Linked DNA regions of Homo sapiens. The protein of the gene in region 1 interacts with the protein of each later gene in a pairwise test. Each region holds a gene or a part of one and is shown on either strand. Other genes may lie near its edges. The genes, in order: CHERP, SNRNP27, CLK3, FRA10AC1, PPIL4, FIGN and AGGF1.

The links.
Region 2: the proteins of CHERP (region 1) and SNRNP27 interact in a two-hybrid assay, tested with the Homo sapiens proteins (one large-scale study listed by BioGRID and IntAct).
Region 3: the proteins of CHERP (region 1) and CLK3 interact in binary tests that used the Homo sapiens proteins (3 or more experiments, as listed by UniProt).
Region 4: the proteins of CHERP (region 1) and FRA10AC1 interact in a two-hybrid assay, tested with the Homo sapiens proteins (one large-scale study listed by BioGRID and IntAct).
Region 5: the proteins of CHERP (region 1) and PPIL4 interact in a two-hybrid assay, tested with the Homo sapiens proteins (one large-scale study listed by BioGRID and IntAct).
Region 6: the proteins of CHERP (region 1) and FIGN interact in binary tests that used the Homo sapiens proteins (3 or more experiments, as listed by UniProt).
Region 7: the proteins of CHERP (region 1) and AGGF1 interact in a two-hybrid assay, tested with the Homo sapiens proteins (one large-scale study listed by BioGRID and IntAct).

What each region holds. Positions count from the first base shown.
Region 1 is NC_000019.10:16,521,115-16,525,461, forward strand, and holds part of CHERP (calcium homeostasis endoplasmic reticulum protein), read right to left. Parts: coding exon 4,128-4,347; intron 2,177-4,127; coding exon 1,938-2,176; intron 541-1,937; coding exon 407-540; intron 239-406; exon of another isoform or gene 1-238. UniProt on the Homo sapiens protein: Involved in calcium homeostasis, growth and proliferation.
Region 2 is NC_000002.12:69,896,687-69,901,033, reverse strand, and holds part of SNRNP27 (U4/U6.U5 small nuclear ribonucleoprotein 27 kDa protein), read right to left. Parts: intron 3,658-4,347; coding exon 3,578-3,657; intron 1-3,577. UniProt on the Homo sapiens protein: May play a role in mRNA splicing.
Region 3 is NC_000015.10:74,625,751-74,629,030, forward strand, and holds part of CLK3 (dual specificity protein kinase CLK3), read left to right. Parts: intron 1-51; coding exon 52-218; intron 219-1,601; coding exon 1,602-1,696; intron 1,697-1,788; coding exon 1,789-1,918; intron 1,919-2,219; coding exon 2,220-2,302; intron 2,303-2,853; coding exon 2,854-2,933; intron 2,934-3,191; coding exon 3,192-3,280. UniProt on the Homo sapiens protein: Dual specificity kinase acting on both serine/threonine and tyrosine-containing substrates. Phosphorylates serine- and arginine-rich (SR) proteins of the spliceosomal complex.
Region 4 is NC_000010.11:93,695,793-93,700,139, forward strand, and holds part of FRA10AC1 (protein FRA10AC1), read right to left. Parts: intron 4,315-4,347; coding exon 4,238-4,314; intron 2,605-4,237; coding exon 2,509-2,604; intron 2,390-2,508; coding exon 2,344-2,389; intron 1-2,343. UniProt on the Homo sapiens protein: May be involved in pre-mRNA splicing.
Region 5 is NC_000006.12:149,543,048-149,547,839, forward strand, and holds the start of PPIL4 (peptidyl-prolyl cis-trans isomerase-like 4), read right to left. Parts: upstream 2,997-4,792; 5' UTR 2,959-2,996; coding exon 2,889-2,958; intron 1-2,888. UniProt on the Homo sapiens protein: PPIases accelerate the folding of proteins. It catalyzes the cis-trans isomerization of proline imidic peptide bonds in oligopeptides.
Region 6 is NC_000002.12:163,610,034-163,614,380, forward strand, and holds part of FIGN (fidgetin), read right to left. Parts: intron 2,552-4,347; exon of another isoform or gene 2,399-2,551; coding exon of another isoform or gene 2,296-2,398; intron 1,774-2,295; coding exon 1-1,773.
Region 7 is NC_000005.10:77,060,917-77,063,928, reverse strand, and holds part of AGGF1 (angiogenic factor with G patch and FHA domains 1), read right to left. Parts: intron 2,227-3,012; coding exon 2,127-2,226; intron 878-2,126; coding exon 677-877; 3' UTR 1-676. UniProt on the Homo sapiens protein: Promotes angiogenesis and the proliferation of endothelial cells. Able to bind to endothelial cells and promote cell proliferation, suggesting that it may act in an autocrine fashion.

The DNA.
Region 1 (4,347 bases):
CGCCCTTGCCACCCTGCTGTTCCGCTGAGGTGGTGGGGACCCATGGTCTGTGGAACTGGGAAACAGGAACACTGACTCATGGGTGGACAGGCCTGCAGCCCAGCACAGGAAGGAGGGGTGACCACTGGGAAGGGTGGGCTGAGGGCCCTGTGGCAGCCGGCTGCTTGAGACGTGCCGCCGTGCCACACCTTCCCTAACTTCTTCTGATGTGTCTCCATTAAAACGCCCTTCATTGAGGGCCACGTGTGTGCTGTGCCTGTGACACACACTTGTCACTCAGGCGGGGGGAGGGCAGTTTCTCCTGAGGGACAGCCACATTTTCTAGCCTGGACAGAAGGTGTGGTTGCAGGGAGCCGGGAGAGGGGACAGAGGCCTCCCGCCCACCCCACTGACCTGGGCCCCTTACCTGTTCCTGGGCCTGTCGTGGGACGGGGGGCTGTAGAAGGCCTCCACTGCAGCCAGCAGCCTCTCGCTGGGCGGCATGGGGGGTGGGAGGCGGATGTCTTTAGGGTCCAAAGGCTTGTACTCGTGATCTTCCAGCTGCAGCAGAGAACCCCAGCTGTCACCATGCCTGGGCAGAGCCCTCTCAGGCCCACCCAGGGTCTGCAAGGAGTGGGGTCAGGGCAGGGCCCAGGTTCAGTGTCAAGGGTACCCTGGGCACCAGAGCTCCTCATGCTTCCCTCTTGGGGATCCCACTCTCTTGTAGGACCTCAGCCACACCAACCATGGTGGGTCATAGCTGCTCTGAGGCTGATGACAGTCACAGGGTTCTCTCTTCAGAAAATCACCCACAGGGGACATGGTCTCCAAACTCAGGTGACCTGAACACCCTCTGGTTTATTCAGACATGCAGCGGGCCCCTCACGTCACCCTTTGCTTGCAATGCCTACCCTGGGCCCCCGCTCAGAACAGCCTCAGCCCCGGCCCTGGAGCCCCCTGGCCTGTATCCTTCTTCTGCTCCGTCTCTGTCCTCCTGTTGAGGCCCTGCCCTGCCTGGCTTGCCTGGGCCCCCGCCCGCAGCTCTCCCTGCTGCCCATGGCTCCGTGAAGTCTGCCTGGACTTCAGGTGGATGTGTCTGAGGGGGTGGGAAGTGGCAGTGGCCAGCATGCCCTTGGAGGCCCCAAGCCCCGGCCCTGGCCTCCCCAACCCCCCCTTTTTTTTTTTGAGACGGAGTCCTGCTCTCGCCCAGGCTGGAGTGTAGTGGCGTGATCTCGGCTCAGTGCAAGCTCCGCCTCCCGGGTTCATGCCATTCTCCTGCCTCAGCCTCCCGAGCAGCTGGGACTACAGGCGTCTGCCACCACGCCTGGCTAATTTTTTGTATTTTTTAATAGAGACGGGGTTTCACCGTGTTAGCCAGGATGGTCTCGATCTCCTGACCTCGTGATCCGCCCGCCTCGGCCTCCCAAAGTGCTGGGATTACAGGTGTGAGCCACTACGCCTGGCCAGACCTGGCCCCTTCTTGCCTCACCTCTTGCCCTATGCTCCGGCCATCCCACAGTGGTACCAGCTGCTGCCAGCCCTGCCCGGCTTCTCCAGGGCCACCCCCCTCCCTGTGTGCTTGGTAGGCACAGCTCACAGGTGGCTCCTTCTAAGACATTCCCTCCATCAGCAGCCCTGGGACAAGGTGCTTCTGAGGCCCTGGACCAAGAAGGACGAAGAGAGGACTCGAGCCTCATAGCCTAGCTAGCCCCACATGGCTGAAGCTCCCTGTGGTGGGAGGGATAGGAGGGGCAGGGCAGGGCAGACATGGTGTCGCTCACAGCCACACCGTGCTACTCCGGTTCGGCACCTCCCACTGACGGATCAGGGTCCCTAGGGAGTGGGAGATGAAGGGGAGCCCCGGAAGGCACCCGGTCCCGTGCATTCACTTTTCACAAGGAGAAACGGGGACCAGTATGGTAAGCGTGCTCAGCTTGGAGCCCACTGTGGGGCATTACCTTCACGAGGGGGGCCATCAGCCCAGCAGGGAGATCGAAGTAGGGCACATTGGGGACCAGGCTGGGGTCATCGTGGTTGATGTGGGGTGGGCCCTGTCGCCGCATGTGTGGGGGCTGCCCGTTGAAGCCATGGGGGGGAGGGCCGAAGTCAGGGTGCTGGGGTCCAGCCCAAGGCGGGTGCTCGTTGATGCCAGGATGAGGCATGCGGTGGCCAGGGTGGTGGTGAGGGGGCCCCATTTCTGCAAAACAGAGACTTGCCTCAGGACCACAGGCCAGTCAGGATCTCCCAGGCGACAAGTGCTGGAGGGGAGGGGCTCAGTGAAGGGCCAGGAGACGAACCCCTCCTGGGAGCCTGTCCAGCATCTTCTCTCACTGCTTAAGACCAGGCAGCAAGGCACCGAGGAGCCAGGCTCCGAGGGGCCTGTCCCGCACCCATAGGCACAGCCGAGGGAGCTTGAGGCTGAGAGAAGAGAACCCCAAAACCCCAAAACTGCACGGTGAGGGCTAAGTTGTGACCCTCCGAATCCATACGCTGAGGTCCCAGCCCCCAGTAGCTCAGGACGGAACTGTATTTGGAGACAGAGCCTTCAAAGACACAAATGAGTTAAAATGAAGCCATAGTGGCCCGAATCCAACGTGACTGTTGCCGTTATAATAAGAGATTAGGACACAGACATGTAGAGAGAAGACGGTCACCTATGAGCCAAGGAGACAGGCCTCCAAGACACTAACCTGAACCCGCCACACCTCCACCTTGGACCTCCAGCCCCCAGATCCTTAAGACAATACATTCCAGCTGTTGAAGCCGTCCAGGCTGTGGGACTTATCATGTCAGCCCAAGCCAAAAAGTAAAAGCAATAAATGTGCCAAGCGGTCTTCAAGCTGCATTTATAATCAGAAATGTATTTAAAGAGAGAAGGCTGGGCATGGTGGCTCACGCCTGTAATCTCAGCACTTTGGGAGGCCAAGGCGGGTAGATCACTTGAGGCCCAGAGTTTGAGACCAGCCTGGCCAACATGGCGAAACCCCATCTACTAAAAATACAAAAATTAGCTGGGCATAGTGACTGATGCCTGTAATCCCAGCTACTGAGGAGGCCAAGGTGGAAGAATCACTTGAACCCAAGAGGAGGCTGCAGTGAGCCGAGACTGTGCCACTGCACTCCAGCCTGCGTGACAGTGAGGCTCAGTCTCAAAAAAACAACAAACAACAACAACAAAAGGCCAAGCGAGGTGGCTCACACCTTTCATCCCGGCACTTTGGGAGGCCGAGGCGGGCGGATCACCTGAGGTCAGGAGTTCGAGACCAGCCTGGGCAACATGGTGAAACCCTGTCTCTACTAAAGACACAAAAAATTAGCCAGGCATGGTGGCGCACACCTGTAATCCCAGCTACTCGGGAGGCTGAGGCAGGAGAATCATCTGAATCTGGGAGGCGGAGGTTGCAGTGAGCTGAGATTGTGCCATTGCACTCCAGCCTGGGCAACAGGGTGAGACTCTGTCTCAAAAAAAAAAAAAAGTACTAAAAGATTAGAAATAAAATCAATAACAAAGATACTAGGCATGGTGGCTCACATCTGTAGACCCAGCTACTCTAGAGGCTGAGGTGGGATGACTGCTTGAGCTCAGGAGTTTGAAAGTAGCCTGGCCAACATAGCAAGACCCCATCTCTATTTAAAATAAAATAAAATTTTTTTAAAAAAGAAAAGTAGTTTTTTGTTTTTTTTTTTTGAGACAGCGGTCTGTCGCCCAGGGTGGAGTACAGTGGTGCGATCACAGCTCACCGCAACCTCAGCCTTCTGAGCAGCTAGGACCATAGGCGCCCGACACCACGCCAAGTATTGATTTTTTAAACGAACTAATACAACGGGAAAACTGATGCAAAAAACAAGCAGCAGCAGTAAAAAGAACGAGGCCCCGCCCTGCCCTCGCCACGCCCACCCACGGCAGGAACCTTTTCCTACTGGCTCTGCCTCATCTGCAGCCAGCCGGGCCTCATCAGGGCGGCAAAACTGAGTCTGTGCCCCCACTTCCTGAGAACCCAGGCCGGGCTCCTCGGACGTCCCATGACCCTGTGTCTGTCACTGTGCACTCAGGAGCATGGCAGGGCCACAAGCAGCGCCACCAGCCTGCTCGGCAGGCGAGCCGTGGATGCCTCCGCCAGGCCCTACCCAGGCGCCCGTACACTCACCGGCAGGGAAGTCCCCCTGGGGGTAGTCGAAGCGGTGGGGATAGGGCGGCCGCTCGAAGGGGTGCCGTGGCGGGAAGTCGTCCTGCATGAAGCGGGGCGGGAAGCGGTTGAAGTTGTGGGGGTGCGGAGGCTGGTTGAACTGCGGGTGCTGCTGGTGGGGCGGGAAGGGCCCCCGGAAGTGTGGGGGCCGCTGCATGCGGAAGGGTGGCTCGCGCTGGCC
Region 2 (4,347 bases), on another chromosome or scaffold:
CCCAGCTAATTTTTGTATTTTTAGTAGACATGGGGTTTCATCATGTTGGCCAGGATGGTCTTGACCTCTTGACCTCGTGATCCCCCGCCTCGGCCTCCCAAAGTGCTGGGATTACAGGCATGAGCCACTGCACCCAGCCCAGTACCCTCTATTTTCTACCCTATAAAACCATGATGTACATCATAAAGTTATTTTCCCTATGAGACTGCAAGCTTCTTGATGGAGGGATATGTCTGAGAGTCACCTTTGCATTCTCACATCCTAGGTCACTGCACTCCCAGATATTCAGAAAATGACTTAGATGAGTATCATCAGCTAACGTCGTGACACATACAAGTGACCCCCACCTCCTCCCTCTCCCATTACTACTTATGCAAGATTAGCCTATCTGTGTAGTGTACTTAATTAGATATTGGTGTCAGGGCAAAGACCGATTCTGACCCACTGGCCAAAAGGCATACACAGACGAACAGTATATTTGAAGTGGGGCTAAAATAAATGTATTTGGTCTTACTTTTCTATTCCTATTTTCATGTATTTTTTTGGAGGTGGAAGGTAAGTCCTGAACAAATTACTTGTGAGGTATATGATTTTGAACTCCCTATAATAGGAAGTAAGCATGACTTAGAAAGACTGGTCTTGGGCACAAAAAAGTAAATGATGATAACCTTTTTACAAAGTTCGATTCCTAAAGGTTTACTGATTTCTGGAAACTATTTGCAGAATTGCATATTATTAGCCCTATCCTCATTTATTTACATGCTGGCATAGAAAATTATCCATTAATAAACAAAACCAAACTTTGAAACCATCTAGAAAAATGTTATTGAAGTAATTGCAGTTTTAGCCATTATTTTCAATGGCAAAAACTGTAATTACTTTTCCACCAATCTAATAAGATGAAAGGGAAAAGCCAAGCACATTGCTGTGAGGCTACAGTCCCAGCTACTTGGGAGGCTGGGGCAAGAGGATTTCTTGAGCCAAGGAGTTTGAGTACAGCCTGGACAACATAGGAAGACTCTGTCTCTTCAAAAATAAAAAAAAAAAAATGGACTGAGGCAGGAGGATTTCTTGAGGCCATGAGTTCAAGACCAATCTAGGCAGCACAGCAAGACCCTATCTCTGCAAAAAATAAAAACATTATCCTGGCGTGGCGGCATGTGCCTACTCTCAGCTACTCCAGAGGCTAAGGCAGGGAAATTGCTTCAGCCCAGGAGGTCAGGCTGCAGTGAGCCATGATCATACCACTGTACTCCAGTATGGGTGGCAAAACAAGACCCTGTCTCTAAAAAACTAAAAAATGAGGCCGGGCGCAATGTCTCACGCCTGTAATCCTAGCACTTTGGGAGGCCAAGGCAGGTGGATCCCTTCAGGCCAAGAGTTCGAGACCAGCCTGGCCAATATGGCGAAACCCCATCTCTACTAAAAATACGAAAATTAGCCAGGCGTGGTGGCAGGCGCCTGTAATCCCAGCAACTTGGGAGGCCAAGGCAGGAGAATCGGTTGAACCCAGGAGGCGGAGGTAGCAGTGAGCCGAGATTGCGCCGCTGCACTCCAGCCTGGACAACAGAGCGAGACTCTGTCTCGAAAAAATAAAATTAAAATAAAAAATAATACAAATAAAAAAATGAAAATACAATCAAATAGAAAGGAAAATGGGTGACTATACTGGCATATGAAGAGGTCCCACAATAGATCAATGATGAAACATCACAAGACACACATTACTTAAAAACACAAATGAGCTGACGTTATAACTGATAGCCATGAAGCCAACTGCATATAAACTAAATTGACATCCTTGTAGATGTCATTTTAAAAAACTGACATCAATTAGTGTGATGGTACTCCATAATTTTTTTAAGATCTATGACTTTTCACCTAAGTTTTCCTTTATAAGCAAACATCTTCTTCACTGACTACATTTAAGTGATGGGTGGCACCACCCTTAGATCTGACTTTCAGGAACTTTAAACCTAACATCCAGCAACAGGAAAACCAAAAAACAAAGAAAATAATTCCATTTTCTTTGGGGAAAAAGTTCCCTCCCCATTCTTCTAAAGACAATAAAACTATAGTTGCTTTACTTTTGACATATTTTAATTCACCCAACATATATCTTAATAAACTTACATTTCACCCAACATATATCTTAATAAACTTTCATTTATAAAATAGTCTTTGGAAAATAAATAAGAATTTAGGGCATTCAAGGGAAAAAAGCTGATAAATAAACTTCATTAAATTCCAAAACAGAGCTCACATAACCATTGCAAGAACAAGAGCTTGTTCTTAATTTCTCACCTCAAAACAGTCATGCCTCAGTACTCCTAAGTTACACACTGTCATTTTAAAACATGTGAGCCCTACACAGTCACATTAGTTAGAAAGAAACTTACAGCCACTGAGATTACCCCATTCCATTAGCAACTCAATGGAATACAAGACTTGGGAAAGTGGATTATTTTTGACAACTTTTTCTCAAACATCTCTATTTCCATTTGCAAAACTAAATGGAAAGACTTAAAATTCTAGAAAAGAGATTTTAAAAAATATGTTTTTCTTTCCACACACCCTCCCTCTCTCCATCCCCTCTCCTCTCTTCATTTCCTCTCTCTATACCCATCTCTCTCTTCCCCCATCTCTCGCTCTATGCTCTCCCTCCTCTATATAATCCCTCCCTCTTTTTCCTCTTCCCTCATCTCTCTGCTATTATGAAGGCTAGACAGCATTCCCTCCCCTATCCACCCCACTTCTAAGCTATGAGACAAGTATGCAGCTGCCCAATGTCATCTCTATCTGGCAGCTGGATTTTGTTCTTCCATTTCCCAGCAGTTCCCCTTCCAGAAACTCTGTTCTGGGTTAACTGTATCACTCAGGGTCCCAGCCTGACACCTGAGAGGCATTACTAACTACTCACTCCCACTTCCCCCAGCTCCTGAATCATTCTCAACTCAGTTCAGGCCTTTATCATCTTTCACTTGCACAAATCAGCAGTTCTCCCTGCCTTCAATCTAACCCACCTCCCATCTGTCCTCCATGCTGCCCCCAGAGTCATTATTCCAAAACACACATATAACCATGCCACTCCCTTATTTAAAAATCACTACTTCCTCTCCTCAACACCAAAAGAATAAACTCTGAATTCCTTAGCATGACTAAGGGCATCAAAAGCCCTCTGTGATTTGCCTCCTACCTCTATTTCTAGCCTAAGTCACTAGCCCATCAGCACCCCTTTATCCCTGGTCGAATCTGAAATTCCCACAATACACTATGCTCCTTTACACCTACATGGCATTTTCATGAGCTCTTCCCTCTACCTGAAATAATCTTCTTCCTCTTCTTTGTCTGATCACTTCTACTTGTCCTTTAAAATCTAATTCAAACATCGTCCCTGGCAACCACTCCCTGAATTCCAATGGCAGTTCACTGTTTCCTCCTTTGTATTCTCAAAGCCCTTCAAACAGATAGTTATTGTCTTATAACCAAATAAATTTGTATAAATGGAAAAGAACATGGAAAGATAGGACAGTCATAACATATTAATTCAAATGAGAATGTTGCACGTTTTACTTACTTTTGTGGAGTCAAAGGAGGCAAATCCCATTAACTTCATCATTTCTATTTCTTCCTCTGTTTTGCCCTCTAAGTCTTCCTCTGCAAAAAAGAATAATTTTGTGACCTCTCTATCATTTCAAATATATACATAAATAAAAAGAGAGGTGGTAACAGATTAATAGTCATTCCACCTCACTAGCAGAGAACACACAAAACAATTAGCTGAAGATGAGTCTAATGAAAAAATTCCTCTTACATTTGGACAGAATGTAACTTATGGTACAAAAAAAAAGTCCTCTCCTTGAAGCCTTTAGACAGGATTACCTTTTAAAAAAAAACCTGGGTTTCATATTAAGGACTACCTTTAATATCAGGCATGACACTATATAGTTCTGAAGACACTTCCAAAATAGAATATTCTCATGTTTTTAACTATCGTTCTATATCAGGAGCACCATAGATAACCAGCAACTTGCTAGGGTGCAATTAAAACAAAATCTCAGGCTGGGCACGGTGGTTCACGTCTATAATCCCAGCACTTTGGGAGGCCGAGGCGGGAGGATCACCTGAGGTCAGGAGTTTGAGACCAGCCTGGCTAACATGGTGAGAACCCGTCTCTACTAAAAATACAAAAATTAGCCGGGCATAGTGGCGGGTGCCTGTAATCCCAACTACTCTGGGACGCTGAGGCACAAGAATTGCTTAAACCCAGGAGGCGGAGGTTGCAGTGAGCCAAGATTGTGCCATTGCACTCCAGTCTGAGTGACAAGAATGAAACTCTATCTCAAA
Region 3 (3,280 bases), on another chromosome or scaffold:
GAGGCAGGCCCCCAGCACACAGCCTGAGCCCTGCCCATCCTCCTCCTCCAGCCTGTGTGTCTTGATGTCTGACTGGTTCAACTTCCACGGTCACATGTGCATCGCCTTTGAGCTCCTGGGCAAGAACACCTTTGAGTTCCTGAAGGAGAATAACTTCCAGCCTTACCCCCTACCACATGTCCGGCACATGGCCTACCAGCTCTGCCACGCCCTTAGATGTAAGTGTCCACCCTCAAAAGAAGCATGGGCAGCCACATGCCTGCAGCCAAGTCATCTGGTTACTTGTTGTCCCCATTCATTCCAGCACGTTACTAACCATTCTCCTGGGCCTGAGGGACACCAGATCCCCTTTGGCGGAAAGGCCTGTCTTTGGGTGGGAATCTCAGTGTGAGGATGGAAAGGCTAGGGCTCCCTCCAGGGACCTCCTGGACCAGCCTCTCTACCCCCAGGCACTCAGGAAGAAAACAGAAACGAACTGCTCTGGAATTGGCCTAACCACCAACCCTGCCTCCCTGCTTCATGCATGGGATAAAAAGGTAGAAGCCTGACCTGACAGATAGCACCACAGGTCCTGCCCACATGGAGACCCTCGGTCTAACCCTGACTTGTCATCTCCCTGCCAGCCTGGAAAAGCATTATTTGGCAGTGCCAGGGCTCAGCGCAGTAGGATTTGCAATGGTTGCAGCAGTACAGAAAGGCTCCTTGGTGAAGTTGGTAGGCGTTGAGCTAGAATCGCTCAAGGTCACCCCGCATCGCTCCCCTACCCTGAGCACTGCTACTGTGATAGGCTGCAGGCCACTGGGGTGGGAAGCCCCACATGGATGAGAAGACAGGTGTCTTCCTCCTCCCACAGGATCTGCAAGATGGGACAGGGACAAGGATTCCAAGCAAGGGGAACAGCTTGGTGAGGCCTGGAGCCTGTTAACGGGCTGAGAATTGGCTCCAGTGGAGTAGACTGCCACTGGGGAGTGGTGGGCCACATAGTTGTGAGGGTCTTGAGTGCCAGATGGGATCCTTGAGCTGAAAAGTGACTACTAGCAAGAAGCCACTGTCAGAAGGGGCTGGAGGGGAAAGGCTTGCCTGCTTATGACTAGCAATGAGAGGCGGGGCTGTCTTCCTGGGTATGCGACCTGTGCACTCAGTCGCACAGGACCCTGTGCTTGATTTAATGTCCTTTTGCCACCACCTTAATATTCTTAGTAACTTGAACAGGGGACCTGCATTTTCATTTTGCAAAGGGCCCTGCAAATTATGTAGCTGGTGCAGGGAAGAGGGAACCACCTCGAGGCTGTTGCTGTAGCTCTGCTGAGAGACAGGTGAGGAGGCCTGGTCTCTGCAGAGGAGAGGTGGAGGGAGGTTTTTCGAATGGCAAATTTCTTTCCTACCCCCCTGCTAAAGTATCAGAACCCTCCAAGGCCTCAAGTACAGAGAACCCTTGAGAGGGAGGCCAGCACAGAGGCAGGCTGTAGTCCAGCTCCCTGCTGAGGTGGGGGTGTGAGGACCTCTGGCAGTTGCTGGCATTGGAAGAGGGGTCTGGCCTAGAGCTGGCAGGAGAGCCAGCTTCTCAGTGCCTACTTCCCCTTCTTTCCCTGCTACCTTAGTTCTGCATGAGAATCAGCTGACCCATACAGACTTGAAACCAGAGAACATCCTGTTTGTGAATTCTGAGTTTGAAACCCTCTACAATGAGCACAAGGTATTGGTGGGGGTAAGGGTGAGGCCCTGTTTCAGGGGTGGGTTACCCGCTGGTGCAGACTCCTGACCTGGCAGGCCTGCCTTGCCTTTCAGAGCTGTGAGGAGAAGTCAGTGAAGAACACCAGCATCCGAGTGGCTGACTTTGGCAGTGCCACATTTGACCATGAGCACCACACCACCATTGTGGCCACCCGTCACTATCGCCCGCCTGAGGTGATCCTTGGTGAGTGACTGTATGGCCTGTGACCTTGTCATACTGGACTGTTGTTGGGAGGGTATGAGCAGAGGCAGTGGCATGCCTGTCATTCTCTGCCACCCAGGGCAGGCAGAGTTTCTCAGACCAAGGGGCCAGTGTCATGAGACACAGGTGACTGACCTGGCTTTATCTGTCAGCCTTACTGAGAGAGGGCCTCGTACTGGGATTTGGGCAAGAGTCCTGCCAGCCGGTGTGGTGGCTGCCTTGTGACTTCCAGGCTGGAAGCATAAGGCCGGATCTCACAGCCTCTCCCCATCTTGGCTTGCAGAGCTGGGCTGGGCACAGCCCTGTGACGTCTGGAGCATTGGCTGCATTCTCTTTGAGTACTACCGGGGCTTCACACTCTTCCAGGTACAGCCACCCTGCATTGGTCCCCTACCCTGAGTACTGCTACTGTGATAGGCTGCAGGCCACTGGGGTGGGAAGCCCCACATGGATGAGAAGACAGGTGTCTTCCTCCTCCCACTAATCATCATGTGAGATTCAGACCCTTTAAGGATGTAGATGCTAAAGGGAAGGCAGAGGTCAGGGTAGCTGGAACACTCAGAGGAGTCTTATGCTAGGCCATCGAGGATGGAGGATGGGGTAGGAGGTGACCTGACCTTCTAGATAAGGGGCACAGATGACTAAAGGCATCGGGATGGGCTGGGACAGGGCATGTTCTGGGCAGGGAGTGAAGAGCTAACCAGAGAGAAATGTAGTCACAGCCCAGTCCACCTCCACCCACAAGGGCTGAGGAGCCTAGGCACAGGCTGGCAGGAGAAGCTGGGGCTGCCGCTTCATTGGTAGGTTTGCATGTCCTGGGGCAGTGAGGGCACTTGCCCATCTTTCTTGTTCCTTTTTCTCCTTGAAGGGGCCAGAGCTAGTACTGACCCCCTTGCACTGTCCCTAATCTTCCACAGACCCACGAAAACCGAGAGCACCTGGTGATGATGGAGAAGATCCTAGGGCCCATCCCATCACACATGATCCACCGTACCAGGTAAGGACCCCAGTAGCCCCCTCAGGGTTGGTATAGAGGCCTTTCTCTTCTTGGCTGTGGGTCAGCAGGGTACTGGATGTGGTGAGTCTTTGCTGGACAGTCCATGGTTCCGCAGGCTCCTAAAAGCCTTCCCTGTGTGCCCCTGCAGACCTGTTGCCCTGGTTCTGCTGCTGTCTTGGGAGCTGCTCTTCCCCACCTCCCACCAGAGGCTTGTCCCCTTACTACTCCCACACTTGACTCCACCCCCTTAATTTTCAGGAAGCAGAAATATTTCTACAAAGGGGGCCTAGTTTGGGATGAGAACAGCTCTGACGGCCGGTATGTGAAGGAGAACTGCAAACCTCTGA
Region 4 (4,347 bases), on another chromosome or scaffold:
TGATCTACCACTAACTGGTCACATGACCATGGCAAGTCATGTAACCTATTAGAGCTGGGGTCAGCAAACATTTTCTGCAAACGGCCAGATGGTAAATATTTCAGGCTTTGCAAGCCATATGGTCTCTGTTGCAAATGCTCAGTTCTGCCATTTTAGCATGAAAGCAGCCAAAGACAACATATAAATGAAGCATGGCTGTATTCCAATATAATTTTATGTACAAGAACAGGTGGTGGGTGTAACTTTTGCTTCCGGGAAGATGGAGTAGGCAAAGATGTACTTCTCCCTATTCCTCATACTAATAACAACTAAAATCCTTATACATTATATATCAAACATAAAAAGACTCTAAAAGGTGGAAGGAAGAAGGCGCCCCGCTAGGGACCTCCTGAAGACCTATGGTATGACATGATAGCGAGTTCCCTAGGTTTTCTTTTTGTCTCATGTATCCTAGAATTGGAGGTAAAGAAGGTGACAACCCGGAAACACCAACAGGCACGGACTAAAAAATCGTCAACAAAAGCTGTTCTCTCTAACCAAATGACCAAGAGTCAGCCTAGCAAGACAACTTTGAGACAATAACTACTCTACTCTTGTCAAACAACCCAGAGAAAACTGTGGTTCCCAGTCAGAATCGCAATTATTAAAAAGTCAGGAAACAACAGATGCTAGCAAGGCTGTGGAGAAATACGAACACTTTTACACTGTTGGTGGGAATGTAAAATGGTTCAACCATTATTGAAGACAATGTGGCAATTCCTCAAGGACCTAGAACCAGAAATAACATCTGATCCAGCAATCCCATTACTGGGTATATACCAAAAGGAATATAAATCATTCTATTATAAAGATACATGCACATGTATGTTTATTGCAGCACTATTCACAATAGCAAAGACATGGAACCAATCCAAATGTCCATCAATGATAGACCAGATAAAGAAAATGTGGTACATATACACCATGGAATACTATGCAACCACAAAAAGGAATGAGATCATGTCCTTTGCAGGGACATGGATGAAGCTGGAAGCCACCATCCTCAGCAAACTAACACAGGAACAGAAAACCAAACACCACATGTTGTCACCCATAAATGGGAGCTGAACAATGAGAACACATGGACACAGGGAGGGGAACATCACACACTGGAGCCGGTGGGCGGGGAAGGGTGAGGGTGATGGGTTGATAGGTGCAGCAAACCACCATGGTACATGTATACCCTATGTAACAATCCTGCACGTTCTGCACATGTATCCCAGAATTTAAAGTAATAAAATAAAATAAAGAAAAATAAAATAAAATAAATCCTCACACACAAAACAAAAAACAAACAAACAAAAAAAACTGTGGCTCCAACTCCTCCTATGCCAGAAAAAAGAGTACCCATACTTTCACTCTCACCAGGCTATAACTAGGTGCCCCCAATGCAGTAGGTGTCAGAGAAGGCAGAGCAAATGTTTAAATGCTAAAGGAACAAATGGCAGATGAGATCCATGGAAAAGCTAGCTATTGGGTTAGGAGATAAGAAGAATAAATCAATTAGTGACACAATGGTACTTCTATAACTTAAAAGAAAAATATTGGAATAGCACAGTGAAACAGATGATTACAGGTAGGGGGCGTATCAAATTGACACTGTCTCCTTCTCCCAATTCTGATCACAGCAATAAATACCCAAAAATACTTCAGTTTTTGCTTGGTATCTCTTAAATTCTCCAATATTCTCAACAGCAGTATGGATGGCCAGCGTAGCAGTTAGTGTCATCAGCCAGTCTTATTAAAAAACTGAGTTGACAAATGGCTATAACCAGGAAGCAGGGTTTATCTTAAAGATAGCTTTAAGTCATGCCTAAAAATTAAAGCCATGGCAGGCCTGAGGACAGTCCACAGGCAGGCCTCATTTTATTTTTATTTTTTCCTTAGATCCAGGGACAGACTGGATAGACCTAATTTTAAATACAAGTTTTATAGAGACCTTAAATAGCAAAGAACCAGGTAGGAAGAGAATAAATTAAAATGAGACTAAAGATAAGTATAGGAAAAGGAAATGTTGAAAGCTTGAAAAAACAATTTGGAAAATATATTTGCAGATTCATGTACTTTATAAACCTATTTATAGAGTACTAGTAATATGTTTTATTATTTTTGTCTCTAAATCTTTCCTATATATTAGTAAAAGAGAATTGTACCCAAAAGTATAAATGGCAAAATCCTACATCACTAAATACTTATCTTTAAAAATAAAAAAGCCTATTTGACTTCACAAGATTTTATAAAACAAAAAAGCAGATTTTAAAATATTCTACTAGTTATAAAAATCTGGAAATAAAAAAAGGATACAGCATCCATAGCTATGAGATGAAACCTTCTATTTCTTGCTTCTTCCCTGTTAAAACAAATTTTTTTAAGAAAATTCAAAATGTTTATATTCAAATTAACATAATCAAATCCCCTAATCCGAAGCAACTTAAACCAAGAAATAGAATTGACACTGAAATACCATACCTATCCAGCAATTCTGCTGCAACTTGTTTATGGGCCACCTTTCCATGTTTTTCTTTCTGAAATGGTTTTTGGAGCAGTAAGTCATCTTCAACTGTCCTGATATATTAAGAAGAAAATAAGAGTTCACTTTTTTCAAAGGTTATTTTCTAATTCTTTATATTTTCATAACTGGAATATACTTTAAAGAATGTAAGTCTTAACTTTAAGAAGACTCACTGATCTTTAATGAGATATTTTACATTTCCTTAAATAGCTTAATTAATACCTTAACATTATTTTAATACCTATAACACGGGGAAGATGAAACTAACAAAAGCATGGACTCTAGTGTCATATCACCTAGCTTCCTGATTCAAATCCTAATTCTGTCAATTACTACCTTAATCTTAATAAGATTCAATTATTTATCTCTTTGTTTCTTCATTTCTCTATCTGTAACATAGTGATAAGGAAGTTTTTGGTAATTAATGATACACAAAAAGCAAGGCTGATTATAGAGAACACAAACCACAGATCCAGCTCGCCCAACCCATGGGCCTCATGTGGCCCAGGATGGCTTTGAATGTGGCCCAACACAAATTTGTAAACTTTCTTAAAACATTAAGACACTTTTTCACATTTTTTTAAACCTCATTGGCTATCATTAGTGTATTTTACGCAGGCCCAGCACTGCTTCAGGCCAACAATGTGAACCAACAGATTCACAATTGTGTGTGCTCCACTGTAGTACGTGGCCCAAGACAATTCTTCTTCCGATGTGGCCCAGGAAAGCCAAAAGACTGGACACCCTGCCATAGACTGTCAGCCCTAGTTATAGTGATGAATATAATCCTGGAGCAGAGTATCCAACTAGATTTGCTCAAATTCTATTCTTACAAAGTAGTATTTTTGAATGAAAAATCTAGAAAATGTAAAGCATCAAAAATGTAATTTATTATAATTAGTACTATCCTTTATTGCAGAGACTGAGTATCCTATAAAAATGTTCAGAACCTGTTAGTATGCCTAATATATTGCTCTCAGTGTGAAATAATAAGCCAATTTCTATACATTTGCTTAAAAAAATCAGTCAACAGCCGTGTAAGTTTGGTTAGTATACATCAGTCAACCACTCCTGAGTCAAAGTATAAAACTGAGTTTCTATGCACTGAAAGCTAAGAACAATGCTCCTACGCACAGCAGCTCCACCAAGACGTATCCTGCTTATAACGCACAGGCTTTATGTGCTAAGAGTTTTTGTCTCTTGCAATTCAAAAAAACCTTCCTTGAGTTTCTTCCCGTGACCTTAGTCTGCTCATTCACGTATGCGTAAGAACTGTGCTGCATTATACTTTCATCCTCCATATTAACTTCACTTTGAAGGCAAGTAATGGCAAGAGACCACCATTCAAGCCCCTTCTGAGCTACAACATTTACAAATAAACAGTCCTTGACAGTTGAATGAAAAATATATGTAATGAAAAGGTTTCACTGATTTCTGAAAAGATTCCAGAAATCTGAAACTCTTCTTTCCCTTTCAATAAACCCCTTTGCAGAATTAATTTTTATTTTTCCCACAATTGTTCTCCAATTTTTAATCAATGTATTAGCTTAATGAACAAAAATTCATTCACTAGAGCAATTGTCTTCACATGTAAACAGAATTCAAAAATTTCACTCTTGTTTATTTATACTTCATATTAATCTAGAAAGGATGTGAAAAATAGATCAATAAAAAAAAATTACTTACCTTTTTTTCCTTTTGCTGGATTCTCCACAGCGTTCATCATCACTAAAATCAGAATCATAGCCTCCATGACCATGCATCTGTAAAGGAGTACAAAGTCAGCTATTTAGAAT
Region 5 (4,792 bases), on another chromosome or scaffold:
TCATCAATGGCTGCCAAAATCTTTAGGTCTTTCATCAAAATCCGATGGGAACAATTTATAAGCGCAACAAGGCCTTAACCCACTGACCAATTTTAACATCACAGAGCCAACCAGACATCAAGTGCCTCCTGAATGTGATGCAGCTGAAAGTACACACTATCTTATATGAAATATTCTTGCCAAAAACATTAAACTGGAACCTAATCAAGGCTCTGAAGCTAAAGAACAATTTATAGGAAACAGGGGACACAAAAATATGTTAACGCACCCAGTAAATAATCAGTCGAATCCAAACAAGAGAAATTCTACAAGACAAAGCACCCAGGTTGTTTCTCAAAATTTTTTCAAGGAAAAAAGGGGGAGAACCAATAGATTAAAACATATATGAGACATTTTAACCAATATATGGACTTTGGGTCCTAATTTAAATCACCATATTTTTTAGAAGTTTATGAGATAATAAGAAAGTTTAAATGATACTAAAAATTATTGCTAGTTTTTTCAAAGTGTGATAAGATCTGTGGTTCTGTTTTTTTATTCTTTTTTACAACTTTTTCTCTTTCCTTTAGTATTTTTCCCTTTTCCCTGTCAAGTTTTTTTTCTTTTTTAACCTGTCACTTATGTGGTACTTAAGCTCATAGTTCCATTTTTTCTTGTTTTTTTTAAAGAGACGTTATATTTTAGAAATACATACTGAAGTAATTACAGATTAAATAGATGCACTGGAGGTGGGGGTATTATAAATGAAGCAAGATTGGCTATGTGTTCACAGCTGTTAAACAAAGCTGGTCATGTGGACATGAGAGTTCATTTACATGATTCTCTCTACATCTGTGTTTTAAATTTTCTATAATAAAAAGTTAAAAAAGAAAAGGAAGAAAGAATGGAAGGTAGGTAAGTCTGGATATGTTGATCATAGATTGATAAGTGAGTATAAATATAGCAGGTACACATGTAAGCACATCTCCAGTCATATGCTTACAAATATGTACAGGGGGTGGACTTATTGTTATGGGCTTATCTTTGCAGACCCACTGCTTGTTAATTGGGTGGGGTAGCTCTACACCCCTTTATTTCCTCATAACTCTGGGAAAAGAGGCCCATTTATTTTGCCAGGTGCTACTCTACATGGGCAGAGCGTCAAAGGAACTCAAAGAAAAGCAAAATCAAGAGATAAAAAACAAAATTCCCTATGATATTCTTTGAAACACTCGATCCAGCCACTCGATCCAAGCTTACCCCAGTATTATGAGGCAACCAATTATTTTGTTTATGCCAGTTTGAGTTGGGTTTCTATCACTTGAACAAAGGGTCCTAACTAATACAACACATTTATATCCATTAGTCATCATAATGAACCTCTAGTGTGTGCCCTAAAAGTAGCAGACATTGTACTGGGTACTCAGGATATAGAGATGATAATTATGGTATAGTTCCTGCTCTCATTGGAGTTTACATTCTTGAGCGAGGGCACGCTTGTAAACAACACCAGGATAATAGGTAAATGTTAAAATAAAATGTGTCATGTGGTTTATAAAAGACCTAAGACACAGCAGAGGAACCCTCAGGTAACTCTGCTTAGAAAGGAGGGAGAGCTTCAAAGAAGAGATGATGCTTGATCTGAGATTTAGATAATAAGTAGTAAGTTTGCCAGAAGGACAATAGTGGAGAAGAATATTGTTTAGAAGAAACAGCAAAAGAATGGTAACAATGGTACGGGAGAGTTTGTAGTGTTTTCGCCAGGTGGAGAGGAGGGAGGAATAGCTGCGTGCGAGGGAAAGCGGAGCACGGCAGGAGGTAGTTATTGTACAATATTGCAACTTATTTCACCTTCTTTGATAGGCTCTGCATTCCATGTGGGTAGGACCCTGTTTGTAACTAATCTCTCCTGGTCTCAGTTTCTTCCTGACTCTGATACATTCTCCACACCGCTGCCTATTATCTTCTCAAAACAAGTATGCCATGCCTCAATCCTGCTTTTAAAGTCTTCAAGGACTCTGATCATCAGTAGGGCACACAAGACTATTCACGACTGACCTAGGCGTATCTGACCACACTCGAGTCTACCATTCCACGACTCACACCAGTCCTTCCAGCCACACCAAACTACTTGCCGTTTCCAGAAAATTCCAAACAAAGAAAGTCCAAGCTAAGAAAACCCTCATTCCCATTCATCTTTGAAAGAACTAGTTCAAGTGTTCTATATAGTATTCGCTAGCTTTGCTTCTTCCCACCCCCCACCAAAGAAGCCGCCCTCTTCTGGTTTCCGTGGCAACTTACACATTCTTCTACCATAACACATAGAAAACTAAAATGGGTTCCTGTGTCTACTTCCCCCAGTGGAAAAATCAGACCCTCGGGGGCAAGAAGCCAAGCCCAGGACTTAGCCCAGTGCCTCGAAGGCTCAGTCCACACTCCAGACAACCTCTTCCTCCTCCACCTAAGCGGTATGCCCACACTCGCTGCGCCAAGCACACCCTAACTGCCTTCATCAAGATTTAACCGATTACACACCAAGCAATAGTTCCTATGTTCCTCTCACGAGTAAACACAATAAAGGCACAAAAGCTATGGGTATTGTATGTGCAGCTCGAATCACACACACACACGCCCCACACACACACTCCCAAAGGCAATTAATGACCGCAAGCACCGTCCACCGGACTGGCCAACACAAAATACGGGAGAAGGGCTGCCAAGGCTCAAACGAATTCCCGTCACAAAAACTTTTCTAGCCAAGGCCGGTTAATAAAATAGCCCAGTCGCGGGCACCAGCAGCCCAGAAGCTCGAGCTCTAGCCAATCTCTGCCCTGGACTGCGCAGAGAAGGGAAAGTAGGGAGACAAGCTCGGGGGCCCCGGCGACAGGTGAGTGGGGCTCAAGCCTCACCACGCGGCCGTTCTTCGGTGTACAAGTCGATGACGACGTCGCCTAAAGTGGTCTCCAGTAGAACCGCCATGGCGCCCGCTCCTCCTCCGCTACAAACCCCGGGAGGAGGGGGGTGACAGGCGCAGGCCGACGGCGTCGTCTACGCCACGCGTCACCCTCGGCGCGACCCCTTTTGCGTCATCTCGCCGGCGCCGCCCCCGGTTCCGAGCAGTTCCTTCCGGTCGGCGTGCGGGCGCCGGGCTGCCCAGCTGACTTACGGATCGGGTTGGTCCCGCCCCCGGCGCGGCCGTTTTGAAAATCCTGGTCCGCCCTTGGCGATTTTGGTGGAAGCCTGTCCCTCAGAACGGTCTCAGTATAGTGTTTTGTGCCCCGTTTGTGTCCGTCTCAAGAGCAGAGCGGCCCTCCGCGCGGCCCTTTTATCCACCAGGGGGCGCCCGCGGCGGGATCTTCTCTCCACCTATTTGGGCGGACTCCTCCGGGTTTCCTCGTCAGTCTCCTTTTCGCAAAACAACTTTGGGCCTCTACTAGGGGTTTCCGATTCTAAGAACTAACATTTTGTTTTGTTTTCTGTTTTGAGACAGGGTCTCGCTCTGTTGCCCAGGCTGGAGTGCAGTGGCGCGATGTCGGCTCACTGCAACCTCCACCTCCCGGGCTCCAGCGATTTTCCTGTCTCAGCCTCCCAAGTGACCACAGGCGCGCGCCACCACGCCCGGCTAATTTTGTTCTTTTATTTTTTGTAGAGATGGCGGTCGGGGGAGGTGGTCTCACTATGTTGCTCAGACTGGTCTCAAACTCCTGAGCTCAAGGAGTTCGAACTCTTCCCGCCTTGGCCTCCCGAAGTGCTGAGATTACTGGCGTGAGCCACTGCGCCTGGCCAAAACTAACATTTTGCCATGCAAGTTTATTCCCCAGACACTCTTCTGGGCAAGCCTGTCACTCTTTCTTATGACATTTTACACATAATCTCCAATAACTTCACATCTGACGAAAAGCCAAAGCTTTTTTTTTTTTTTTTTTTTTTGAGACGGAGTCTCGCTCTGTCGCCCAGTCTAGAGTGCAGTGGCGCGATCTCGGCTCACTGCAAGCTCCGCCTCCCGGGTTCACCCCATTCTCCTGCCTCCGCCTCCCGAGTTGCTGGGGCTACAGGTGTCCGCCATCACGCCCGGCTAATTTTTTGTGTTTTTAGTAGAGACCGGGTTTCACCGTGTTAGCCAGGATGGTCTCGACCTCCTGACCTCGTGGATCCGCCCGCCTCCGCCTCCCAAAGTGCTGGGATTACAGGCTTGAGCCACCGCACCTGGCGGAAAAGCCAGAGCTTTTATAATGATTTACAAGATCCTCTCCTACCCCATCCTACGCCATCTTCTTATTCCTCTGAAGCCACAGTAGACAGTTTGCTATTCCCTGAACACTGCTGACATACTCCTGCCCCATGGCCTTTTCACTTGCCTTGGTTGAGGGACCTCTTCCTCCAGTTATTTGTATGGCTCCCATTCACCTCCTTCAGGCGCTTTGGCGTCGGTCACCCTGTCAGTGAGGCCCTCCATGGCTGCCATAATTAAAATTAACCCCACAGACACTTCTTTTTCTCCATATAGCTTTTTCTCCAGAGTACATTTTACAATCTAACATGCTATTTACGAATTTGTTTGTTTGTTTATTGTTACTAGAATGTGTGTTCCAGGATATTCCATCTTGTCTGTTTTGTTTAAAGCTATATCCCTAATGCGTATGACAGCCTGGTACACAATGTGCAAATAAATGTTTGTTGAATGAATAAATATGGTTTTTCGGTTTGGGTTTTTTTTTTTTTTTTTGAGACGGAGTCTCGATCTGTTGCCCAGGCTTGAGTGCAGTGGTGCGATTTCAGGTCACTACAACCTCCGCCTCCTGGGTTCAAGCGA
Region 6 (4,347 bases), on another chromosome or scaffold:
TATGTTCCTCATTCACTTGAGAGGAGAGAAGCATGTCAATGTCACTAACAAAAATCACCGAGGGCTGGCGACACCTGGCCACAAGAAAAGAGGCATGGATAATTTTCTCTGCTTCTCCTAACCACTTGGCGACTAGTCCAGAACCGGCAATTTTGAAAAATGTGGCCCCCAGCTGACTAGCGATGCATCTGCCCAATAATGTTTTGCCTGTCCCCCGAGGTCCAAATAAAAGGATGCTCCGAGGTAAGGCCGTCAGTCCACTGAACGCGTCTGACCTCAACACTGGCCATAAAACCTCCTCTTTAATGACAGCCTTCACCAGGTCGAGACCAGCAATGTCATTCCAGTCCACTGGAGGTCCTTGGGTGATAATCTCATTGGTTACCAGGTCGATGAGGTGCGTGTCAGTATTCTTCAGTTGCTCGTCCACAGAGTGGTTGGATGAGGTAGCTGCACGGAGTCCAGGGCCTTGCATTGGGTGAGAGAGGAGCTGCCTGTGCTCGTCCCCATGCTCACTCATTACTGGCGATGTGTACTTCCCAAAGGATTCACTGGATCTTGATCCCAATGAATTTTTAGCAGTACTGTAGGAAGGAGGGGTCAGAGCCCTACTGGACTGGCTGCTGAATTTCCTTTGCTGTTCAGAGGACATTAGCTGCTTCGTTGGCTTAAATGCTAAGGATGATGTTTCAGCACTTCTGTCAAAGCCATTCCCCCGATTTGTGTTTGAAATGCTGTTGTCGGGCATTCTGTACATAGGACTCTGTGTAGATCTCTGTTGGCCATAGCTGTAATTTCCATAACTGGAGTCCATATCTCCTTGCCCTGCCATGTAGAAAGCTTTCCTTTTGAGAGAACTTGCTGAACTGTTTGTCAGAGCCGACGGTGCAATAGGTGTCAAACCATGGCCCTGGTAGGTGTAGCCAGGAACAGTGGTGGGGGGTAGGGGGGTGGGAGCAGGAATTCCTGAAGGCAGGTACGCTGAAGGCGGAGGCGGTGCCCCCCCAGGGCTGTACCCAGACCCCACAGCAGTCTGAGGAGGATAGCTAGCAGACGGATAGCTGTAACTGGAGAGGTTAGAAGTCCCATTGTAGCCTGGGACCAAGGCTGGTGGCGGAGGAGGTGGTGGTGGGGGCTGTAGTAGCCCAGAGCTATGCAAAGGAGACGGATGAGGTGAAGGAAGTGCAGGTGCTGGCTGGCTACTATAAGTAGAATGCAAATATGATCCGTTGTATCCTGGGGCATATTCCTGAGATGGGAGCCCTGCATGAAGACTGGGTACAGTGTGGCTTCCACAGGTACTACTTGAATAACTAGGTTCTGTCAGGTTGCTGGCTACCCCAGGAGAGCTTCCTATACTCGCAGAGACATCTGCTGGAGGGAGGGCTGAACTGACTCCAGCTTTGCTGGCAGTGATAACATCCGGAACACAGTTCATGGGATAAACAGCTTCTGAATTCAAGGAAGGCTGCCAGGGTTCACTTTCATTTTTCCGACCGTTCACTAGTCCTGATGGTGTGTCCGAATAGTTGCTGAGTACGGGTCGGTCCACAGGACCTTCCAAAATGCCGGAATACTTCTCTGCATATTTTTTTAGTAGGTTGGATGCAGTCAGAGCAGATATGTCATCATTCGCCCAGGCGTACTGATAGGTGCGCTGCAGATGACCTCTGTAGGCTTCAACTTTGTGGGCAGGAGACCGAGTGGTTGAGGTGATGTCAAAGTGCTGTTCTGGCCACTGGGCATGCTCTGGCGTCCACTGCATCTTCAAGCCTAAGAATTTTGGGGGGAAAAGAGTTAATTTACTTAAATAGGCATCAGAACTCTTAAAGCTTTTCCCCCAATTTCTTTTGTTACCTATTATTTTCCATTAATGATATGCATACTTTAAAAGATCTACACTGTTTATAATACCTATTATGATCCCTATAATAAGTACTCTTTAAAATGGACTAAACTTCAGCCCTGTTTAAAAAGCACACTGAGTTTAAAATATAACTCTGTAGTTACCTATATTTTTTGCATTTGTAAGGAATAAGTAAATCTATTTCTGTCAAGCCCATCAGCTTACCTACTATACGCACATACACAATCACATATATATGTACACACACATTCCTGTCAAATTAGAATTCAATCATAGGTTCTTAAAATAAGCAGACATTTTAAATATCTTGCACATGGCAGTATTAACATGTACAATATCTAGCTATTCTGTCTGTTCACATCACAGTTTGTTTTACATTTTAAGCAATATAAAAATGAGACACAGCTGACAGATCACATCTAGGATACCTCTCTTATTTGGTACTGAACACCTAGTTAGCACAGTATAATGCTCCCTGCGCAGAACAATATGACACAGACATAGCAGGTCATTCCATAATCCAACTCTCATCTAAAGTGGTCCACGACAGTTTCAAATCTGCTTCGTGGAGTGCAGCAAAGCAATCTCCCAGGCAGCGCTCCATCGCTTTCATCGCACAAAGCCTACAACTCGGTATGAATTACAACTGGCTCCTTTCTGCCTCTCAGTTCTGTTGTTGAGTCTCTGAAAAAAAAAACAAGCATCACTTGTCTGTCGGTCTTCTAGCGTTCTCCCTCCTTCTCTTATAATCCCTCCTCCCCTTACAGCCTGCAAGGTACTAAGAGGGGAGAATGTGTGTGTGTGTGTGTGTGTGTGTGTATTTATACACATCCTGTCTTATACATCTTCATATATATATATATATATATTATATATGAGAGAGAAAGAGAGAGAGAGAGAGAGAAAGGAAACTGAGGGGAAAGGGAAGATAAGAATGGAGAGAGATTCTGGATTCTAACTCTTTCAATTTCTATAGGAAACCACGTAGGGCATACGCTAGAGGAGTACAAGTAGATAATGAGATGGTCTGGGTAATTCTATCATCTGCTGGGTTACTAAGTGAAGCAAAGTTGACTATGTAGCAAACTACAAAATGAGCATTTTCTCATTTAAGAAAAAAATACTAAGCAGTCAGAATAATTTGAATTTTAAATTGTAAAGAGACTTTAGAAATTACTTTATTTCACAGATTAGGAAACCAGGGCCCAAAGCGATTTATAATGTACCCTCGAGGTCTCACATACAGTTAGTTACAGAAGAGGACTGGTACCCTGTTCTCCTTTTTCCCATTGCTGGCTCATCTCAGTCTAATCTCTGCTTGGTTTAACACTTCCTATTCTGGTACAGCTATATTAAGCATCTCTCCTTCATCTTTTTTGTATTACCCAAAGTGAATTTTGCAAACTGTCTTGTGCCCTCTGGCAGAGATGCCTTGATAAGGAGGAGGCCTGGTCTACATGAAGCATCTGTGGCATCAACCCCCTTCTGAATTACTACAGTCTATTTTGTCAGTTTCTACCCCCTTCTGTGCTCTTCCTCCAAGCTCTGTGGCTCTTCATTGCCTGACTCTGGCTTCTGACATGGCCGGCTCTGACTTACTGCGATAAACTGAACATAACACACAGTTTGGTAACAGAATGGCATGTTGATTCCCTTCTGACTCCCTCTTCCTTGTTTGCAAAACCACTGCACCAGACACTGGAAGTTAATTAGCAGGATGATGCTGTGCTAATTGTGTTAATTTACAAGGTTTTAGTCAAAGAGAATCATGCCAGGGCTGGCACTGCTGTCATGCTTCCGACTTAATGATTAAGAAATACTGAAAACAAGGTGGGAAGGATTGCAGTAATTACACAATAAATGAATAAAGCAACAGGATTCATTTGCAAATATATTTTACTGCAATTGTACTCATTTGCATTTTGATTTTTAAAAAGGATCCATGTAGATATTCATTTGCAAATCACAACTCAGTTAAATTAAGTCTGAATGCTGCACAGTGTAACTTAATCAACCTAAATATATGTATATACATATTAGTAAAAATTCTAAAGACCTCAGTTCTCTTGTACATGCAACAGATTCTTTCTTCAATTTCCCTCAACTACCCCCAAAATTCATATTTATGTTTTAAAACTTTATATATTATTAAATAATCTCATTGAATGGGAAAATAGTATTATAAAATCCTGATGAAATGCAGCTTGCATCATTTCACTCAGAGAAACTCTGAGGATGAGTTCCAGGGAGAACTAAAGTGGTATTCTTAATTATTTCTGCTTTCTCAATCATTACTTTTTAAGGGGGAGGAAAACACACCGCAAAATGGGTGAAATGACCGAAACCACACTTAAAGGGGAAAAGCTGCAATTTTAATGAAGCAGCATTTCAGGAATCATACTTTCATTAAATTCAACTGGAAATTATTAAGAGCAAATCACCAGGAACCAATCGCAAGTAATCAGTATCTAAATGCTTCT
Region 7 (3,012 bases), on another chromosome or scaffold:
CAATATGTATTCAGTTGTTCATATCTAAATACCTCATTAGCTATGAAACAAACCAAATATAAATGCTGAATATACAGTACATAGCAACAGATTCTTCACAGAAGAAAACAATGAAAGACTAATTTTCTACAATATGTTACCTGTTCATTAGTTCTTCAATAACATTACTTAGGCTATTTCAAGGATAACAAAATGTATGCGCCACTACCCATGTTTTCGCAACATTTTTTACCTAGGTTCTAAAGGGAATAAATGAGGATGCATATAGTCAGATTTATTTTTATAAACTTCTGATGTTTCTTTTGTTGTGCATCTTACATGAATATATGGAGACAAGAACAGATGTACACTTAAGTCATTAGTAGTTCTATGAATTTTGCTTATATGGCTAGTTGCTTATATGGATGTTGTAAATGACAAGATAAAATAACGAAGTTTGATAAACTCATCCGTGCCCTGTGAACTTTAGTCTATTTACTGCATAAATTGGTTCAGTCACTATTTATTAGTTTTAAAAAAATGGTTTTTAAAAGCTGCAAACCATACACATTTCTGAATCAGGAAGAGGTAAACTGTGACATAGTTCCCCTGTGCTGCTGATTCTTTTGGGGAGAAAAAATAAGTTTCCAAATTCTATTTTTAAAAAAACTAGAGGTTTTTTTTCTATGATTAGCCTTCACTCTAAAGTCCCTTTTACCCAAGGCATGGTCCCTGGGTCATCTTTTTGAGGCTTAGTTTCTGGGAAGTTTTCAGTAAACCGCTCTCGTGCTTTGTCCCAGTTTTTTTTGTTCTTGTTTTGGAGAAGGTGAACATCTTCAAATGAGGATGGTTTGCCTGTCCCCAAGCCTGCATGTGTTCGCCGAAGCTGAAGCTGGATCTGTTACCAAAAGTTGAGCAGAGGACTTATTTTAGAGTCTAAACACATTGAAATCTGCTGTGTCCAACTTAGGACTCTACAATTTTTTGATTTATTAAAGATTGATGCAAAAGAAAAACCTGTCAGATGCATCAAATACATACAGGAATATATATACCTTTATACATGGAACTTACATTCATTTTTCTATGTTGTCTTGCCTTGTCAATAAGTACAGCCTACTTTACAGAAAATAGAGTGCTCCTTAACTAGCAATCACCAAATTTCATTTAGATGCTGCAGAGTATGTCATTCCACCCTAACCAGAAATAAAGGCAATGGATATGTTTAAACCCACTGTCCTATCCTTATCTAAGTAAGTGAACAAGCAGGTTAAACATTAATAACCATAAAAAGAATTTGATTGTTTTCATAACAGGAGGGGAGCACTTCTCAATATTTTAAGAACATTCAAAGCTACCATTTACTGAGTGCCTAATGTAAGGTACAATGCTTAGGGGCTTTATCTTCAAGACAACCCTGAAAAAGAGTTCTTATCCCCATTTTTTCATAAGAAAACTAAAGTCCAAACTTGCCCAAAGCCACATAGCTAGTAAATGATAGAGCACATATTCTAACCTAGGTCTGACTACAAAATCCTTGTTCTTTCCACTGTACCTCAAAAAAAATGAGAAAGCTGGTATATACTCACACTGATCCATCTATTATTTCTTTAGGTACTAAGTTCATTATCCAGAAAGTTCTACAGTCAGGTTACTTATTAAGGTTTGTGTGAAAGATAACCTAAACCTCCTACGAACCATGGGACCATTAATTAAACCACTATGTCATTTTCCAGAGATTATTCTCTATATTTCATGTTACATGCTCTGATTCTTGAACCAAACAGATTTTTCAGCTCATACACAATCCACCTGTTTGTAAACTAACACTGTGATTGTTCTTGAGTGCTCTGACAGTTATTAAAAATGACTCTAAAACACAGAAGAACCTTTGGCTCAGGAAACAGCACTTCTCACCCTAGCTTTAATGTAGGGAAAAAAACTCAAAAAGAGGCTTTCTAAAAATATAAAACACAAAACAAAGCACATGTATATATTTGGTAATTGTGAATGCCACAAAGGCAGTAATCATGTCTCCTTTTGCTTTCTACTATATTCTTAGCACTTAAGGCAACGTTTGGCACATTAATGTACACGGTAAATGTCTGCTCTAGGAATAAATGAATAAAAGAAAATCCAAGTCTTACCGGCGTTTTCATTCCTCCACCATCCTTCCCCAGGCCCTCTCCTTTCTTCCAACCCATCTTCTCCAACATCTTCCGACCTTTGTTGCTATCAGTAATTTCACTTTAAGGAATATTAAAATGATAGTTGATTTATAAAAGATCTTTTAGGTCACATTTATAATAAATTCATGAATTAAAAGTAATTGGTACAACTACTTTAGAAAACCGCTTGGCATTACCTAACAAAGTTGAAGACACACAAATTCCACTGGTACATATCCTACTTAGAAAAGCATGTGCATGTGCACCAAAACACACATACAACAATGTTCTTCCAGCAAATCTAATAGCAACAAATCAGAAATGATCCAGATGTCTGGCAATGATTAAAATGGATAAATTGTGGTATAGTGATACAGTAGAATATTATTCAGCAATAAAAATAAACCATACCTAACAAAATAATGTGGAACACAAAAAATATAGACACAAAATAAATACTGAATTGTTCCATTTCATTAAAATTTTAAAATAAGTGAAATTAATCTATTGCTGTTAGGATGGTGATTACCTTTCGGGAGGACAGCAGGACAGTGATTAGGTGGGGCACAGGGAGAATAAGCTTCTGGGGTTACTGATAATTTCCTATTTCTTGTCCAAGAAATGTGTATTCTGCAATATGTTAATCTTATGATGTATCATTGAGCTATATACTTATAATTTGTGTAATTTTCTGTACATGTTACATATTAAAAAGTTCAAATTGAAATAAAACTTCTTAATCAGTTTGCATTTTTGTCCTATGATTCTATACTCTGCTAATTTAAGAGTATTTTATGTTCTATCTTTTCAGTTCCACAAAATATGCTGTTAGCCCTTCAGTTAATAACCAAGCAATGTCAAACCA